Regions from separate parts of the Homo sapiens genome. Here all the other regions are reported to be linked to region 1. Evidence: microRNA targets listed by miRTarBase, many of them from high-throughput screens and not tested one by one. Region 1 holds a microRNA gene; each other region holds the end of a gene's coding sequence.

Region 1 (4,228 bases):
GTGGAATGGATTCTTCCAAAAGCAAAGAGAAAATTTTACAAAGAAAGAAGCCACGGGGTGGAACAAAACTAGAATTGATTTCCTGAGTTCAGTGTTCATGAAGTTAAAAGTTCTTTTTTATTTTTCTCCAAGACTTTCCTCCGAAGAAGACCAATTTAAAGTAACAGAACTGGTTACAAAAGAATCAATTCTGAATACGCTACAAACCATTGAATTATACAGTTTAAATGGGTGGATTCATGGAATACTTTGTAGCCATAAAAAGAAATCATGTCCTTTGCAGCAACATGGATGTACCCGGAGGCCATTATGTTAAGCAAATTACCACAAGAACAGAACACCAAATATCACATGTTCTCACTTATAAGTGGAAGTTAAACATTGAGTACACATAGACATAAACATGGGAGCAATAGCCACTGGGCAGTGCTGGAGGCAGGAGGGAGGGAAGGGGCTGAGGGATTGCCTATTGGGTGCTGTGCTCACTGCCTGGGTGACAGAATCATCTGTACCCTAAACCTCAGCATCATGCAGTGTTCCCATGTGACAGACCTGCACATATACCCACTGAATCTAAAATAAAAGTTGAAATTATTAAATAAATAAAAAAAAAGGCCAGGAACAGTGGCTCACTCCTGTAATCCCAGCACTTGTTCAAGACCAGTCTGGTCAACATGATGAAACCCCGTTTCTACTAAAAATACAACAATTAGCTAGGTGTAGTGATGCATGCCTGTAATTCCAGCTACTCAGGAGGCTGTGGCACGAGAATCGCTTAAACTTGGGAGGCAGAGGTTGTAGTGAGCTGAGATCATGCCACTGTACTCCAGTGTGGACAACAGAGCAAGACTGTGTCTCAGGAAAAAAAAAAAAAAAAAAAAAGGCAGAAAAATAAATAGGTGGATTCTATGGAATGTGAATTATATCCCAATAACTGTATTAAGTACATTTTTAAAATGAGAATACCAAATTCCATATGTGCTGAGCATTCCGTAAAAATCAGGTTATTTCTGGCCGAGCGCGGAGGCTCACGCCTGTAATCCCAGCACTTTGGGAGGCCGAGGCGGGCGGATCACGAGGTCAGGAGATCGAGACCATCCTGGCTAACACGGCGAAACCCCGTCTCTACTAAAAATACAAAAAATTAGCCGGGCGCGGTGGCGGGCGCCTGTAGTCCCAGCTACTCGGGAGGCTGAGGCAGGAGAATGGCGGGAACCCGGGAGGCGGAGCTTGCAGTGAGCCGAGGTCGTGCCACTGCACTCCAGCCTGGGCGACAGCGAGACTCCGAATCAACAAAAAAAAAAAAAAAAAAAAAAATCAGGTGATTTTCACTGGAAATGAATAGACTGATGATAAATCCTGGGCGATTTGTCTTCGCAGTATGATCTTGTTTGCACATTTTTCCAGGAATATTTCATAATAGAAGCACATAAAACATTTTAAAAATGCGACAAGATGGACAGTACTCTTTAAAAATGACAATGAACAATGTGACATCGCTTTACCATTCATGTTTTTAAAATCTACCTTTCAGTGAACATGAATGGTAAAGCGATGTCACATTGTTCATTATCATTTTTCTTTTGTAATCTACATTTAATGTTTTACCTGCTGCCCATTTGAGCTTGGGAGAAGAGGCAGGGGTGTCTGGGGATGAGAAATATCGGCCAGTTGGCTGCAGTTAATTTTTCATAAGTCTCATTTATCGAAATCTGTAATTTGAACACGGCTGTTCTTTGAAATGTTCCAGTCTTTCTGAGTTCAATCAATTTCTTTCTTTTTTTTCTTTAACCCACTCCGCCATTCAATCAATTTCTTAATCATGTAACAACAGCGTGAGCCTTTGAAAACCAGACACAGGCTACAGAAAACTACACATGTTCTCTTTCACAGGGTGCAGAATATGGAATTTGATGCCTCCTCCACAAAAACTCATCAAATAGCACTGCACATCTGAGTGGCTTGGGGAGGGAAAAAAATGTATTTTTAAATGAAAGAAAAGAAAATCAGAAATGATCATTGTTAGATGAACAAAAAAAATCAGGATCTCAACAGCACCTGATGAAAGGCAAATTATACTATTCACATTGATCGCTTTTTCTTTCTTTTTTCAAATGATTTATTATCCTTTGATATCACAATCAGTTAGCTTGCTTGCTGCGGCATAAATATTTGATCTTGGAGTAACGTTTTTGACGACTGCTTTTTGCTACAGCCGGACTTTGCCTCCAACTTTCCTTGATTAAATAGAGGAGGCAAATATGAGGTGCGCAAAGAGAATAGAAATAAGTGACCTGGAATTTATCCAAGTAAAGAGAAAGCCCCAGGAAATGTATGAATATTGGCAGGGAGAAGCTCCACAACTGTTTCCTGGTGCTGGAGGAGGTGTGTCCTCTTTCGGTTTGTTTTGTGCCTGCCTGCCTGCCTGCCTGCCTGGGGACAAGCAGAATACCATGGAATTCATTTTTTCTTCAAACTGTATTCTTTGGTTCTTTGGTTATTATTGAAGCGAGCTGTATATGGAGGGGCTGGTATTTTCAGACAGTCATTGTATGTGCCAAGATTCAGGCTGAATAAAGTGGCTGGGAGACGGCGAACATTTCATTGCTTTCCCAATGGTACATCCCTAATTGTAGATCCTCGAGAAAAGGGTGCAGCTGTGAGAAGTTTGCAGCCAGTCCTTACAGCAACTTGGGATTGAAAATACCTGGTAAGGCAAGATCTGGGTAGGGCACTGACTGCCCCGACTCCCTCTAACACCCACTGACTCCAGTTCTGTTTTCTGAGTTCACACAAAACAAAGCTAGCCCAGTGTCCAAATACTTGAAGACAGCGTCTTATCCTCATTCTTGGCTGCACTCATCTCTTCTTTAGGTTAAAAAAAAATTATTTTTTTTGAGACAGAATCTCGCTCTGTTGCTCAGGCTGGAGTGCAGTGGTGCGATCTCAGCTCACTGCAACCTCCGCCTCCTGAGTTCAAGCAATTCTCGTGCCTCAGCCTCCCCAGTAGCTGGGACTACAGGTGCCTACCACCGTGCCCGGCTAATTTTTGTATTTTTAGTAGAGACGGGGTTTTTCTATGTTGGCCAGGCTGGTCTCCACCTCCCAGCCTCAAGCAATCTGCCCACCTCGGCCTCCCAAAGTGCTGGGATTATGGGCTTGAGCCACTGCACTCAGTCTCAAATTTGGTTTAACCAAAGCTCCCTTGTCATGGTTTAAAGTCTTGCAATCACCCTCATAACTTTCCTTTGGAATCCATGCTCCAGATTGAAATTTTGACTTCTGCTTGAGTCTGTGTGTGACATGGAGGAGAGGATACGGCGGTGTGCGGAAGGATGGCTCTACAGCCCTTTCTTCATCTACAAAGCAGGGAATGTAGTATCTACCTTCTGGGGTATCATGAGGAGGACATGAACAATGCTTGGGAAGGCCTTGGCCCAGTGCCTGGCACGAGACCATCATTCAGAACATGGTGGCTAATATTAGAATTCCCTTTAAGAGCGTCATTTGAAGTCAGTCCTTGAGGCTGCCTGCCTATTCCCTGGCCTGGAGGGCTTGTCTTTTTGGTTCTTAGTGGTTCTGGTTTATTCCCTTGCTCTGACCTTGTGTTATCAAAACAAGGCAAGTGCTGATGTGACTCAGTGTCAGTTAGCATTGCCACTTGCTTGGGTGATTTCCTTCAGTTCTCTGTTCCCCGGCTGCCTCCTGGGAAAATTATGCCTTCCTTGCAAAGTAGTGGGATTAAGACAGCCTGTAAAGGAGCTGGCATGGAGCAGCTCAATACATGGCCAGAAAGACTATCATCTTCCCCTCTAGGTCCCTCCCATTCTTTGCTTCCTTTGTTTATTCTCATTCCTCAGATCTCAGTTCAAACGTTGCCTTCTTAAGGAGGACTTCTTTGACCCCTCCATCTGTTACTTACTATTACTCTTACGACCATTTTGAGCGTAATTACTTATTTGTGTTATGTACATGTTTATTCTGTCTTTCCCATCAGACTCTTAAGATGCATGATCGCGGGGACTTGGTGCTGCTTTCTGCGGTATACCTAGGGCCTAACACATAGCACACCTGCAATATATATTTACTGAATAAATCATAACTGTCTTTACTCTGATAGAGAAGGCTAAAGGCAGACTAAAATGAATTTTCCACCACTAGAATTTTCAAACATGGCATAACTATCTGTATGTGGCTTTAAGCGAACTCCCTAGTACCAGATTCTTTT
Region 2 (4,187 bases), not on the chromosome of region 1:
AAGAAAGGTGAGTTGTATTAACTGCTCCTCCCAGACTACACAATTTCAGATCTGCCAACAGATGATAGTGGTATTCTCTTTTCCATTTTGATTCTTCTTATGAACAAACATCCTTGGGCTGAGCTATGTGTGCATGTTATTATAATTTGTGACCCTTCCTAGTCATTGTAAAATAAGTAGGGTAACAAAGTGAGGGAAAAAAAGGGGCATGTTTGGTGTGTAATTATTCATTCTTCCAGGCTGTAGTGAAATTGGTGATCTAGGGTCTCTGACAGGGAAGGCTTTATTTTTGTTTTAAATGGACAATGGGGGTAACAACTGCACATTGCATTTCCCATACTTGATTTTGTCCAGTTCATCCTTTGTTTTCCACTGTCTATTGGCACCCGCAGAGTGTTGCACTGCTTATCAGTTTCTAGCATTCTGCATTCTCTGTAGTGACTGTGGGCACACTGACATCTGGGGTCTTGGTAAACATTTGAAGTGCCTCAGGATATCAGTAATTGAAAGTGAAAGCCAGAGTCTATTCCCTACCCTGCTCCTTTGTCAGAAATTTTATGGTGTTTGTGATTTCATCCTCTGTTGTTGTTGTTTTTTTTCTACCTTTTTATTTCCAGGTACACCAAATCCCACAGGGTGACAGACAAATGAGACCCCCCAAACCCAAGAGGAGGAAGATCTCCAGATAACAGAGACTACTCCACTAATGCGCAGTGTTTATTAAAGGAACATGCACAGATGTATCTGTATATAGGTATTGATATAGCCACAGTTATATCAATATTTAGACTATGGCAGATAGCTACCACCACCACAGGGTGCTAAAAGAAACAGTGATACAAAATTTTTTTGATCAGGAAGGATAATGAATGCTGGAAAAGCCAATCAAAGTCTCTGTGTGATGAGAGTGATCAATGGTCAAGAGATTACTGAGAAACTCTTTTTCTATAATACTAAATTGTGATTATAAGAAATAGTCCAAATGTTTCTGAAGAATTTTCAATGTTGTATATAGAAAATACAGAATTTCATGGTGATATCAGAAATGTAAATATTGTACAGTATTGTCATGTACAAGCGTACCTAATGCACACTTTATCTTTTATTGTACAAAGAAATAGTGTACAAAATTCTTTGGTTTCTATGGAGTACACCTACCAGAGACTACCAGTGTAAAGTGATAAATAAAAATACAACCTAAATGCTTTTCTATGATAATGTAAAAGATGCTGTTTTTGTATTTAACAGCAGAGAAAAGGCATGATGATGTAATATCTGAATTATGACATACACTGCACACCACTGAGTGTCCATTTATATTGTCTGTTTGGAATGAACCTTGCCTGGAAGCACTGGACTCAATTTCGGGTGTCTAGGAAATTGCAACTTTGCAGATTTCTAAAGGGATGAGGGCTCACAGGTCTAAATTAAGAATTCAGAAACTGCAACCATTTGTTGCATATTTTTTTTACCTAAGTTTTAAAATAGAATAGGTTTTATAAAAAAAAATCTTAGATGGAATATTTTACTCAGCCATTTCTGTAGTTAACATTTGATAGCCACCTGTTGAAGCAGATAGCTTATACTGACTGCACCACCGCTGGTGCTCAGAATTGAGGGTTTTTTTGCAAATGATATCTGACAAGGTAAAACTTTCTATTTCCGTACATGGAGGCAAAAACCCCACTTTGCAACCATTATCAGAGGTAAGATTGATAATAATTCATTTTTTTGTAGTGGCAAATATAAATATGAATCATCAAAGCAAGTTTCATATCCATTCATCAGTATTACTTAACCCAGAAGTTAAGGTGGCTTACGGAATTATTAGCAATGGTAATTTTTTTATCAGTATTGTGTAACATATCAGATTTATTTTATTTAAAGAATTATTTATACCATTAACAGATTCTTATATATATTAATGTGGCAAAAATGTGCAGGTTAAATCTATTAACCAAATTATTTATATTATATTAAGTAAGAAAAAATGTGAAACAAATGTAGAGAGAAAATACTACATTACAAGTATACAAACCTAAAACTGTGAGCCATTGTAAAGTACAAGGTAATTAATAAGAAATGTAGCACAACATAATTTTCCGTCTTCTTCTCACAATTTTTGTGGTGGTGGTATTACCCTATCTTCCAGGCAGTTAAGCAAAGTTTAGGCTTCCAGCCTGACTTCAGTTGATGGATTGTCAAAAGAAGGGATCTATTATCCCTTTATTCTTGGAACCACCAGTCCCTGCCCCAAACCCTTAAACCCCTAGAGAGCACTGCCTCGTCCTCTAGCCTGGGGCTCACACAACAGTCTGCCACTCAGGCTGCTAGGAGATTCTCCAATAGCAGGCTCAGCACCTCAAACTGCCCACCACCTCTCCTACTGCTCCTCTCCCACCCACCACCCAAACTCCTCAGTCCTGTCATGTAGCAGAGTTCCAGTAACTCAGGAAAATGGAGACCAAGGTCATTCCTTAAGTTGGTTTCTTGGGGCCACAGCACAGAGCATGCCACCTGGGCTCACTTTTGATAGCAACAGCTCTTAGTTATTCCCCTAGGTCTCCTGTGTCTCTCTGTCCCTCTGTTCCTACTTTCAACCTACCCCCAAGCCTGATGGAATGCAACTGGCTACCCTGGGCTTCATGACCTCAAAGTAGGAACCCTTCGTTCTGGGGGTAGGTTCATTTTGTCTCTCTTGTAATGGTGGGATTGCCTGCCCAGTTCCTTCATGCAGTCACATGAAGTAATCTTTTGTGTAGTTTAGTTGACACATGTTTATAAGTTAAAAGTTGATGTGGCTAGTATGTTTAAACCATTAATGTCCATTTTTTTTGCACCAACCTGTTTTTCTACTGTTTTTTCCTACACATTTTTGTTTATTCACAGACAGACAGACATGTGTGTTTGTATGCTGGGTGTGTCTGTATGTGTGTATGTGTTGATATGTAAATTTTTTAGCCTTTGCTTTTCTGTCTTCAGGCTGAGTTTGTGTTGACCAAGCCTTCTTTTTGGTATTTTGAGCTAATTCAGTTTGTGCTTCCCTCCCATTGTATACTTTACATAAGTAGACCATGTAAAGTATGTTTGTGCCCATGATTTCACTGGTTGCTATGGCTTTGATATGGGTGCTAGGTGTAGTAGTTTCAGTCCACGTGGGTTTTTTTCATCTCTCTTAGAGTTATATGGTTTTGTGTAAGCAGTTAATGTAAATATTGTTAGCATTACAGGTCATACAGTGCTGTAACATTTTTTTAAATGTTGCACCTACTTTACAATTAAAAAATTGGTCACTCGCACTTCAATTTTGCCCATAGAGCCATTTCTTTGTCTTTGTATTGAAGCCAATTCATTTTTTTAAATGAAGGCTAGGCCTTCTATGTTACCAAAATTTTTATTCCCTAAAATAAACTTTTTAAGAAACAAATCCAAGAATGGAAACAGATGAAAAATTTTTTCTTCTTTAAAGAACATAATAGTTCCTGCTGGAAAAGGAAATCTAATTTTATTTTGTGTCCCTTAACAGTCCTAGGAAGCACAAGGAGAATAAACTAAACCTCTAAGAAGGTTTTAAAAATTATTTCAAATGAGTGAAAATTAACTGAGCAGCTTTTGTGTGATTTGTCTTGTTTGTAGCATTAAAAGCAAACCAGGGTTTTTATTTATTTAAAGGAACATTTTTGGCTTGTACTTTTCAGTGCCATTATGAATGAAAATGTTTTAAGAACATTCATCCCTTGTGATATCATGGGCCACTTTTAGTCTTTTATTTGGACCCTGACTTTGAGTTTTTGCTATGCCTGTTTTTTAAGTAAACACAGCCTTCTTATTTGAACGTAACACTGCAGAATTGCAGGAAGAGAAAAGGGCAGTTAGTTATTTCACTTTCTGTAAGTTTTAGGAAGATTCTTATATCCTACGAGGTGACTCATGTTTCATTTTAGACCATGATAGCACATTGTTGTTAACTTTGGTAATCTTCCATGCAGTTTGCAGTGTTCCCTTGCAAGTCACAAGCATATATGCATTAAGATTTTAAAATCTAAGATGCTTAAGATGTTGGTGGCATTGCTCTTTCTGAAAAGAAAGACAAAATACTAGACCTTGCTGAAAATTGGATATCTTATTTACTTTGCCCATTTATGCCCGAATGGTGTAATGCAAGACTCAAGACTTTTCAATGTAGT
Region 3 (4,000 bases), not on the chromosome of region 1:
GCATCTACATCCTGGGCGGCTACAGCTGGGAGAACACTGCCTTCTCCAAGACCGTGCAGGTGTACGACCGCGAGGCCGACAAGTGGAGCAGGGGCGTCGACCTGCCCAAGGCCATCGCTGGCGGGTCCGCCTGTGTCTGCGCCCTGGAGCCACGGCCAGAGGACAAGAAGAAGAAAGGCAAAGGCAAGAGGCACCAGGACCGGGGCCAGTGACCCTAGCTGCGCCTCTTGGGACCATCCTCACCGTCACCTCCCAGGGCTCTGTAGACCAGCAGCAACTTCTTAGTATTCCGGAAACATTATGTACAACTTAGCAGCTTTTTTTACTTTTATGATTCTTGGTATTTCTATGATATCACAGTAACCAATTAAATACTATCTGTAACTTTACATATCTTGCTTGAATAACTAACCCTGGGCCCAGGCAGTGAGCAACCCCTTGTATCTTCACAGGTCTTTGCCCCGTGTTATGATTCCTCATGGGTCCTTGCTGACTGTCCCCCTGAGAGTAGCTGGCACGTGGGTAACACAGAAATTTCTGTAGTGAAGCTTGGGCCTCAAAGGGTTCTCTTAGGCCACCTAGTCCAAGCCTCCCCAAACCTGGCTGAACTTTTAAGAATACAGATGCGTGAGCCCCGCTCAGAATTATGGAATCCAAAACCACCAGGAACGGGGAGGAGGTGGTGCCCAGAAGCTGTATTTTAACTAGTTCTTGGAATTCTGGGTATTAGTCACATCTGGGAATCACTGGCAAGGTCCAGTGTGTTTGTTTTATAAATGAGTGCACAGAGACCACCCATGAGGGTGAGTGAGTGAGTGACCAGGGGCCACGCAGCTCGCTAGACTGTCAGATGAGACATGATGACTTCCCGCTGGGGAGCTGTTCTCCGTATCAGGTGAACGCTGTTTCTGAATAATTCCGTCTTTCCTCATTGGAAACCTTCTTGAATTCTAAAACGTTACAGGTAACCAAAAACGAAAAAAGGTATGAAGCTCTTTATACATATTTTTTTGTAATTTGTGCATTTTTTTCCTTTTTTTTTTTTCTGAACCCACTGTCTTTTATATTACTGATGTACTGAGCTCCCAAATCTGTTTATTTCTCAGGAAAGAAAAAGTGAGTGCTATGGAATTTGCCATCGTTCTCTGTGACTCTATCTTGAGGCGCTGTTGAAAGTTCCTGCACAGAGGAGCACATGTGGATCCCTGAGAAGGCAGTGGAGGGCTCCCTAACTCCCACGCCAGGTCCTGCCCCAGTTTTCTGCTTCTAAGTAGTTTCGTGCTGCTGGGCAAATTCTCGAACAAGTCCGTGTGTTCCCTCATCCACCCCGCTTAGCCACAGGATTAGATGGAATACCCTCCAGGCTCCTCCCGGGTGATAGGGCCATTCAGCCTCTGAGCTGTTCGTACCCGGATGGCATCCCCTTCAGGATGTGGAGCTGGCCTGCACTGACTCCTGCAAACAGTTCCTAAAGCAGGTGTCAGGGTCGCTTGCCCTTTAAGAGGGCTCTTAGCTGCCCGAGTGGATGAGAAACGTGCAGAACTATGGGAGGATAGGAGTGTGATGGGTTTTAAGCATGAGCCAAGGAAGGCATGAATGAGCTGTACCTCACCCAGCATCCGATGGCAGAGATCAGTAAACTTCAAGATGTGCTTCATCTTCAATCCTAGTCTAACACCAGTCTTCCTGCAGACAGTTCCGAGAGCAGGTCTCGATGTCACTTGCCCTTTAAGAGGGCTCTCAGCTGCTCGAGTGGATGAGGATCAATGTGTTAAGATTGATATTAGACTAGGAAAAAAATCTTAGTTAACTTTAATTTCCATTTCTTCTGCTTCTTTGCTGCCCCTCCTTTCCCTTCCCTTCAGGGTTTACTGTGGTTCTCACTGGTCTGTTTATGTAGCCATCCAGAAGAGATGAGAGCATTTTGGGGACTGAAAGCTTCAATAGCCAACTTACTGCCCTCTGTGGTTAGTGAGGAGGGCAGTCTGCATGTTCAGCTAGCTAGTTATTTGCATGTGAAGTCCCTGGAGGCTTACAAACTGTTGAGAGGTTCTGCGAGGCATACAAACAAACAGACCAAAAGGCTGGAAACTCTGCTTGGAGCTCTGCAGCATTCCGGTGTATGAAAGGTTCCGAGAAGTCTCAACCCAGCATTTCCAAACTTCTTTGAGCCTAAAAGTCGTTTGTCTCATACCTAGTCCCAGACCCCCACAAAACATGTTTTGCAGAACTTCTGCCAACTTTGGGATAGCTTACCCCCTTCCTATTCGGGAAAGGTTTTATTGCTTGTAGACCCCTCAGAAGGCAGGGTAGGGTGTACGTGGGCTGTTCTCCCCATCTCAGCCTGGGTCATGAACAAACGGGCAGTTGTTTGGCCTGAATCTCGGGGCAAGTTGGGGAGAGCACATAGAAAGACTCTGTGAGTGATTTGGGGAGTGGGATAGCTTTGACCTTGGAGAGAGGAGAGCCATTGGTTTTCAGCCTAAGCCAGCTCTTTTATGTTTTGCTTCTGGGACTTGTCCCTGGAAATGTGTGAGCTTCTGGCCTCTATTCTGATTTTCTTGTGCCTCATGAGTTACATACGACGTCCTGCGCTTCATATTTTGTGGTGTCTCTCCTGATACTATGAAGGTGGTTTGTAATTGACATGGCTTTGACCCTAATATTACTAAGGTTGGGACCACCCTTTTAAAGGGAGGATAAACAAGTTTCATCTTGTGGGTCAACTTCTAATATTTGATGGTGGCTACACTGTGACAAGAAAGGTTTTTGAGCTTGTTGGGGTCAGTGGATGGGCACAAGGGCACCCAGTGGTGGTGCCCGGGCCAGGTTTTTGTTACTTGTCTTTTTAAGTTGAAAATTCACCCTACTGTGCATGAAAATGGAACTGAAAATGGAAGAGACCATGCCTGGGCAACATGGCAAAACCCCATCTCTACAAAAAAATTACAAAAGATTAGCCAGGGATGGTGGGGCATGCAGTAGTCCCAGCTGCTTAGGAGGCTGAGGTGGGAGAATCACCTGAGCCTGGGAGGTTGAGGCTGCAGTGAGCTATGACCACACCACTGCACTCTAACCTGGGTGACGGAGTGAGACCCTGTCTCAAAAGAATAAAATGTTTTTTAACTCAGATGGGCAGAGTTTGGGCTGTGCTTATGCAGTGGCCATTTGAACCGCACAGTCACGAATGTGGGGTTTTAAACTAGAGTGATGAAGGCACAGGTGCTTGCAGGCTGCCATTTTGAGAGGGAAACAGCCACACATGTCATCATGTTAAACTTTCAGTGTTTCAAGCTATTCTGCTTGAATTTTGAAGACACCTGGATCTTTTTTTTTTTTTAACATTTCAAAATAAGCATGGCAGGCTTCTATTGAGGTTTGGACTTCTCTCATTTCTAAAGAATTAGAGTTGTAACTTCATATTAGTTGTAAGTTTGGGGTTTGGTCCTCACCCAAGTTGGAAAGCTGTTTGCTTAAGACATAGATGTATTATAATAATAGAAGGGAGGGAGTAGAAAGCTGATGAACCCTTGTTACTTATAGCAAACTTCCTGCTGTTTTAAATGCACAGAGATTATTTTATCAACTGTGGTTAGCACGCAATTGGTATTTTTATTGTTCTGCCATTTTATTGAGGCTATCAAGTGGGACTTCAGACCTGGCTCTGAGCAGGACCACACGTGTGTATTTATATTGAGTGCCCTCACTCATGATAAGGTGACTTCATGGAGACCCAGAAACTCACCCTAAGGGGTGTTCACCTTTGAGGTGGGCATCCAGATGCTGAGGGGAAGTGGGGTCCATCCTCTGAGGTCCAGGGGCCTACTTTGTGAGCTCAGTTGTGTTCACCTGTGGTTCAGTGTACCTCGGCCCCTAAGCCAAGTGATCGTTCAGTGACTTGCAGCAATGTGGGAAGTGAGGGGACCCCTGCCACACCCCCCACCACCCCCTGTAGAGTCACTGACCTTCATCCTTCACCCTGGTCCTCCATGGTGCAGCA
Region 4 (4,222 bases), not on the chromosome of region 1:
AACCAGAAGCAGCTTAATTTTTACGCAAGTTCATTACTCTTTGTTTATGAAGGTTCATCTCAGCCAACCACTACAAAATTGAATGACAGAACTTTGGCAGAAAAGTTTTTGTCCAAAGGACAACTGTCAGACACAGAAGTACTAGAGTACAATAATAACTTTCATGTGTTAAGTTCCACAGCTAATGGAAAAATAGAGTCTTCAGTGGGCAAAAGCTTGTCCAAGATGTATGCGCGTCACAGGAAAATATATACAAAAAAGCATCACAGTCAGACTTCATTGAAAGTTGAAAATCTGGAGCAAGACAATGGGTGGAAAAGCATGTCACAGGAACATTTAAATGGAAATGTACTTTCCCAACTGGAAAAAGTTTTCTACCATCTTCCCACTGGTTGCCAAGAGATTGCTGAAGTAGAAGTGCGAATGATAGATTTTGCTCATGTGTTCCCTAGCAACACAATAGATGAGGGATATGTTTATGGGCTAAAGCATTTAATTTCTGTACTTCGAAGTATTTTAGACAATTGAATCCTCTGTTGCAGTCTTTTTAAGGGGTGGGCCAATCATAATGAAGAGGGGCAGTCAATATCTGCACCTTTAATGCTATGTAAAAAATTTGTATTATGAGTCGACATTTTATTTGTCTTTATACTTTTGGAAGAATGGTTAACTTTTTTATAATCTTACTCAGGAAAACTAACTATTTGTTCATTAGAAAACTATGAAGAATAAAGAAACTTAGGAATGTTAAGCAGGGAATGTGGTGGTACATGGCTTAAACATCTTTTTTGGCTCAAGCAAAATGCAAACCATTATTCAGTCATTAAGAGTTTAGTTAGCTTTCTGTAGCCAATTCATGAAATCTCTGTCCACCCAGCCTTGACAATGAGCCATATCTAAAATATTACATTATTAGAACACCTACCAAAATCTCGAAAGCACAGGTTGATGTCCTTAGTATTGCTATGTATGAAGTTACTAAAACTGGAGAAAATTCTACTTCAGAAATAAGTACTGTTTAGGTTTTATATTAAAAGTTCAGACCAGCATATCAAAGGGTGCTCCTTAGTGAAATGATTTAGAATTGTTGCATTCCAAAAGCAGGTTTTCTCTTTAATTTTTACATCTCTCTCTCAAAATATTATACTTCATGAAAAAGACAATTGATGTGGATGACAACAACAAAGTCTTGAAATTAAGGGCACACTAATTGTCCTTACTGGGGTTAGGGGAAGAGAGATATTATTTTCAAGGAACAAAATATTTTCCTTTACAATCTTTCATTCATGAGAAAATTGGAATATAAATTTATTACATTGTGAAAGTATCATAAACCATATACCTTTGTATCTAAATGCAGCTTCAAAAAAGTAAATAATTGAAGTTTTATTTCTCCTCTAAATAACTTGAATTTTTTTCTTTAAAAATTTATGTATTTATATGTCCCCATTTAGTTAAGTGGTAGTGTAAATGTATGTTGTTAAAAACAGTTTCTCAGAATTATAGTAAGCAATGAAAGACAATATCTAATTAGGTTGTTATCAAAAATACTGTGTGTAAATTAGTCCGTAATATAGGGTTTGGTGCGTATCTATATTCATGCTTCTATTTCACTCTTCCTCAAAACAGTTTTATATTATGTTGACCAGTGAAATTGTAACTTAATTTCATGGGGACAGGGGCAGTGCTACAGTTCCTGGAAAAATTAGATTTGTATTATCTTTGTTTCACACCCACCACCTTAAAAAAAAATCAACTAGTTATTTGTCATTTAAAACATTTAAAACTTTGAGTCTTCAAATACATTTGATGTTAATGCTGCCATTACTTGCACTTCCATTCACTAATAACATTTCTAGGTAGTTATCAGTTTTGTCATATTCCTGGAAAATATTTTGGGGTTGTAAATTCTTTCTCCTCTTTTTCTTCTGGAGTTACAAATTGAATTTTTAAATCCGAGCACCTTTATTGTGGTGTGGAGAAAATTATCACAATTTTATGTTTATTTTACCTTCTCAGCCTTCTCTGAGGGCACTTTGCAAATACCTGAGTCCAAACAGAAGTACCAACTAAATGCTCTATGAACTCTATCCTTAGTAAATCTATTAAACCTGAATAATTTAAAAGATCATGTTCATTTTGTAATAGCAAAATTTGATTTTAATTTTTTATTTAGAATTGGTGTATTTATCATAGGGACTTCCAATTTTTCTTCACTTTTTGAATGGATATTGGCTATAGTTTTATGTTTTAACGGGAATGAATTTCAAGTCATAATAATCAGAATTTTTAGTTTTACTTTTTTCTTTTACAATATGGATTTTGTTGTTATTTGGATAGTGGTTCAATAAATCTTAAGCTCAGATAATTAAACACTATTTTGAATCTTAACAAGATACTGAGGCTTTTTTTGTATGGGATGATATCAACCTATGTACAATGAATTTAATAAACTTAAGTATTGTCAGATTTTTTGCACATTTTAGCTCAATAAAATCTTAATGTTCAAGATTTTTTTATCTGCATTTGGAAATACAATTTTGTAAAATCAATGTCTTACCTTTTTGATACAATAGATCATGTTTTGTTTTTAATAAAGCAAGAAGCCCTTTTATCTGTTGTTTTTCAGGGAAGGGATTAACATTTAATTCTGTTTGTTTACATTTGTTATCATTGTTATCCAATGCTCATTTTATGTTGCTTTATAAGTAGGCTTAGGTATAACAGAATAAGTATCTGTTTATCTAATCTACATGTGACTATCTTAGTCTCTCTCGGTCACTTAATATTATGCTGAAATTTACCACTGTGGGGATGAATGATCGCTATTCACCAAGTATATTTGAACATGTAAATGCTTAAGAAATAAGCATAATGCGGATATAGTTTGGGTTAATAGGATTCTCATAGTTTTTTTTCCCCTATGAAACATAAGTAATGATTTTAGTGTATTTCTTATGGAATACACTCATTTAAAAAGGACTTTAAGAAATTGTGGATGTGAATAATACCTTTCTCTAATAAAAATTTAAATTGTATAATAGTTTTATAATATTTACATTAATTGATATTTTAATATGGATAGACATTGCATAGATTCAAATAAATTAAAATCAATGATAAATGCTAAATATTTTATCTAAATAGTTTTTCAAGAAACAGTTATGGAAATGTGTATATTAAATGGCTCTAATGTGGAGCTTGTGGTATTTCAACTCAGTATTCATTATTAGTTGTGTGTCTGGAAAGATTGTACTTACTTTTCCTCTTTACACTACAGTTTGCTCTTATGGGGCTCTAAACTGTTTAACTGAAGAACCTTCGTCTGTATTTTGATTGAGCATAATTTAGTATTTTATGATTTCCAAGATGATGTTCTTATGTCTATCAAGTCTATGTATCAAATTTATAACATCATTTAAGAAAAAGGAATTTCCACAGATACTTCAGTTGCAATTTTTTGTTTCATGCTACTGAAAATACATTTGTTTCTAGGGGTTGGAATATTATAGAAGATGTAGGATGAAAGAAAACGATAGAACAACGAAAGAATTCTGTTTATGAAATTACAGGAATTGTGTCCACTATGGTAAAGCATTGTCATTTTAGTACATTTTCTCTTAGTAGTTTGGCATTTTATACTTTAAAACTTGTTTTGCTTTAAAAATTGTTTATAATGCTTACCTTCTTTCTCCAGTGCCTTTAGTCTTGATTTGATATGTTTGTACCCTCAGTTACCCTTTCTATTACATGTTTTTGATGTTTTCATAGCCTAGGAAACATCGATTCCTTTTTAATAATTGTCAATCTGATTATTTAAAGAGGTAACAATTATCTGTTAATGCTTTGGAAAAACAAGTAGGGTTGCCTTTGGAGGCCAGGCTTCTTAGTTCATTCAAAAATATTCCTTGGATTTATGCCATGTATTAAGCATTTTTAGCCCCCAGTATTACAACTGTGAACCAAACGGATAAGGCCCTAACCATTTTCAGCATTCTCTTTGGATGGGGTGGGATTGGGGACTTAATTAAAATAGAGATATAGAAAAATAGGCATCTAAATAAGATAATAAGTGTGGGGTTGAAATGAAGCATCTAACAATAGTTGAAGTTAGAAGTAATATTTTACAGTATTGTAACCTCTATTTAAGTTTGGGTATTAGTTACAGATAGCATAAAAAAGCCTTAATTTTTCACTTTCCTTGCTGGCAAAGGTACATTTA

What was found. The annotated mature microRNA hsa-miR-4790-3p reads UGAAUGGUAAAGCGAUGUCACA and lies in region 1 at 1,490-1,511, opposite strand. An mRNA with a match to its seed (bases 2 to 7 or 8) in the 3' UTR can be bound and repressed. Matches are read on the target gene's strand: a 7mer-m8 pairs with bases 2 to 8, a 7mer-A1 pairs with bases 2 to 7 and ends in A, and an 8mer does both.
Region 2: miRTarBase lists MBD5 as a target of hsa-miR-4790-3p. Seed matches in the 3' UTR shown: 7mer-A1 at 1,778-1,784.
Region 3: miRTarBase lists KLHL36 as a target of hsa-miR-4790-3p. Seed matches in the 3' UTR shown: 7mer-A1 at 1,384-1,390.
Region 4: miRTarBase lists IPMK as a target of hsa-miR-4790-3p. Seed matches in the 3' UTR shown: 7mer-A1 at 1,837-1,843.

The regions. Positions count from the first base shown.
Region 1 is chr3:5,248,691-5,252,918 of GRCh38, forward strand. It overlaps MIR4790 (microRNA 4790), which reads right to left and starts at 1,565; the gene lies at 1,487-1,565.
Region 2 is chr2:148,512,253-148,516,439 of GRCh38, forward strand. MBD5 (methyl-CpG binding domain protein 5) reads left to right here. Exons shown (of 14, transcript NM_001378120.1): 14 at 618-4,187. The coding sequence ends at 689. Among named protein-coding and RNA genes, the nearest start is that of EPC2, 130 kb to the right of the region's middle.
Region 3 is chr16:84,661,922-84,665,921 of GRCh38, forward strand. It overlaps KLHL36 (kelch like family member 36), which reads left to right. Exons shown (of 5, transcript NM_024731.4): 5 at 1-4,000. The coding sequence ends at 212. Among named protein-coding and RNA genes, the nearest start is that of KLHL36, 15 kb to the left of the region's middle. RefSeq lists an enhancer at 1,684-1,903 and a silencer at 1,994-2,043.
Region 4 is chr10:58,192,382-58,196,603 of GRCh38, reverse strand. IPMK (inositol polyphosphate multikinase) reads left to right here. Exons shown (of 6, transcript NM_152230.5): 6 at 1-4,222. The coding sequence ends at 528. Among named protein-coding and RNA genes, the nearest start is that of IPMK, 73 kb to the left of the region's middle.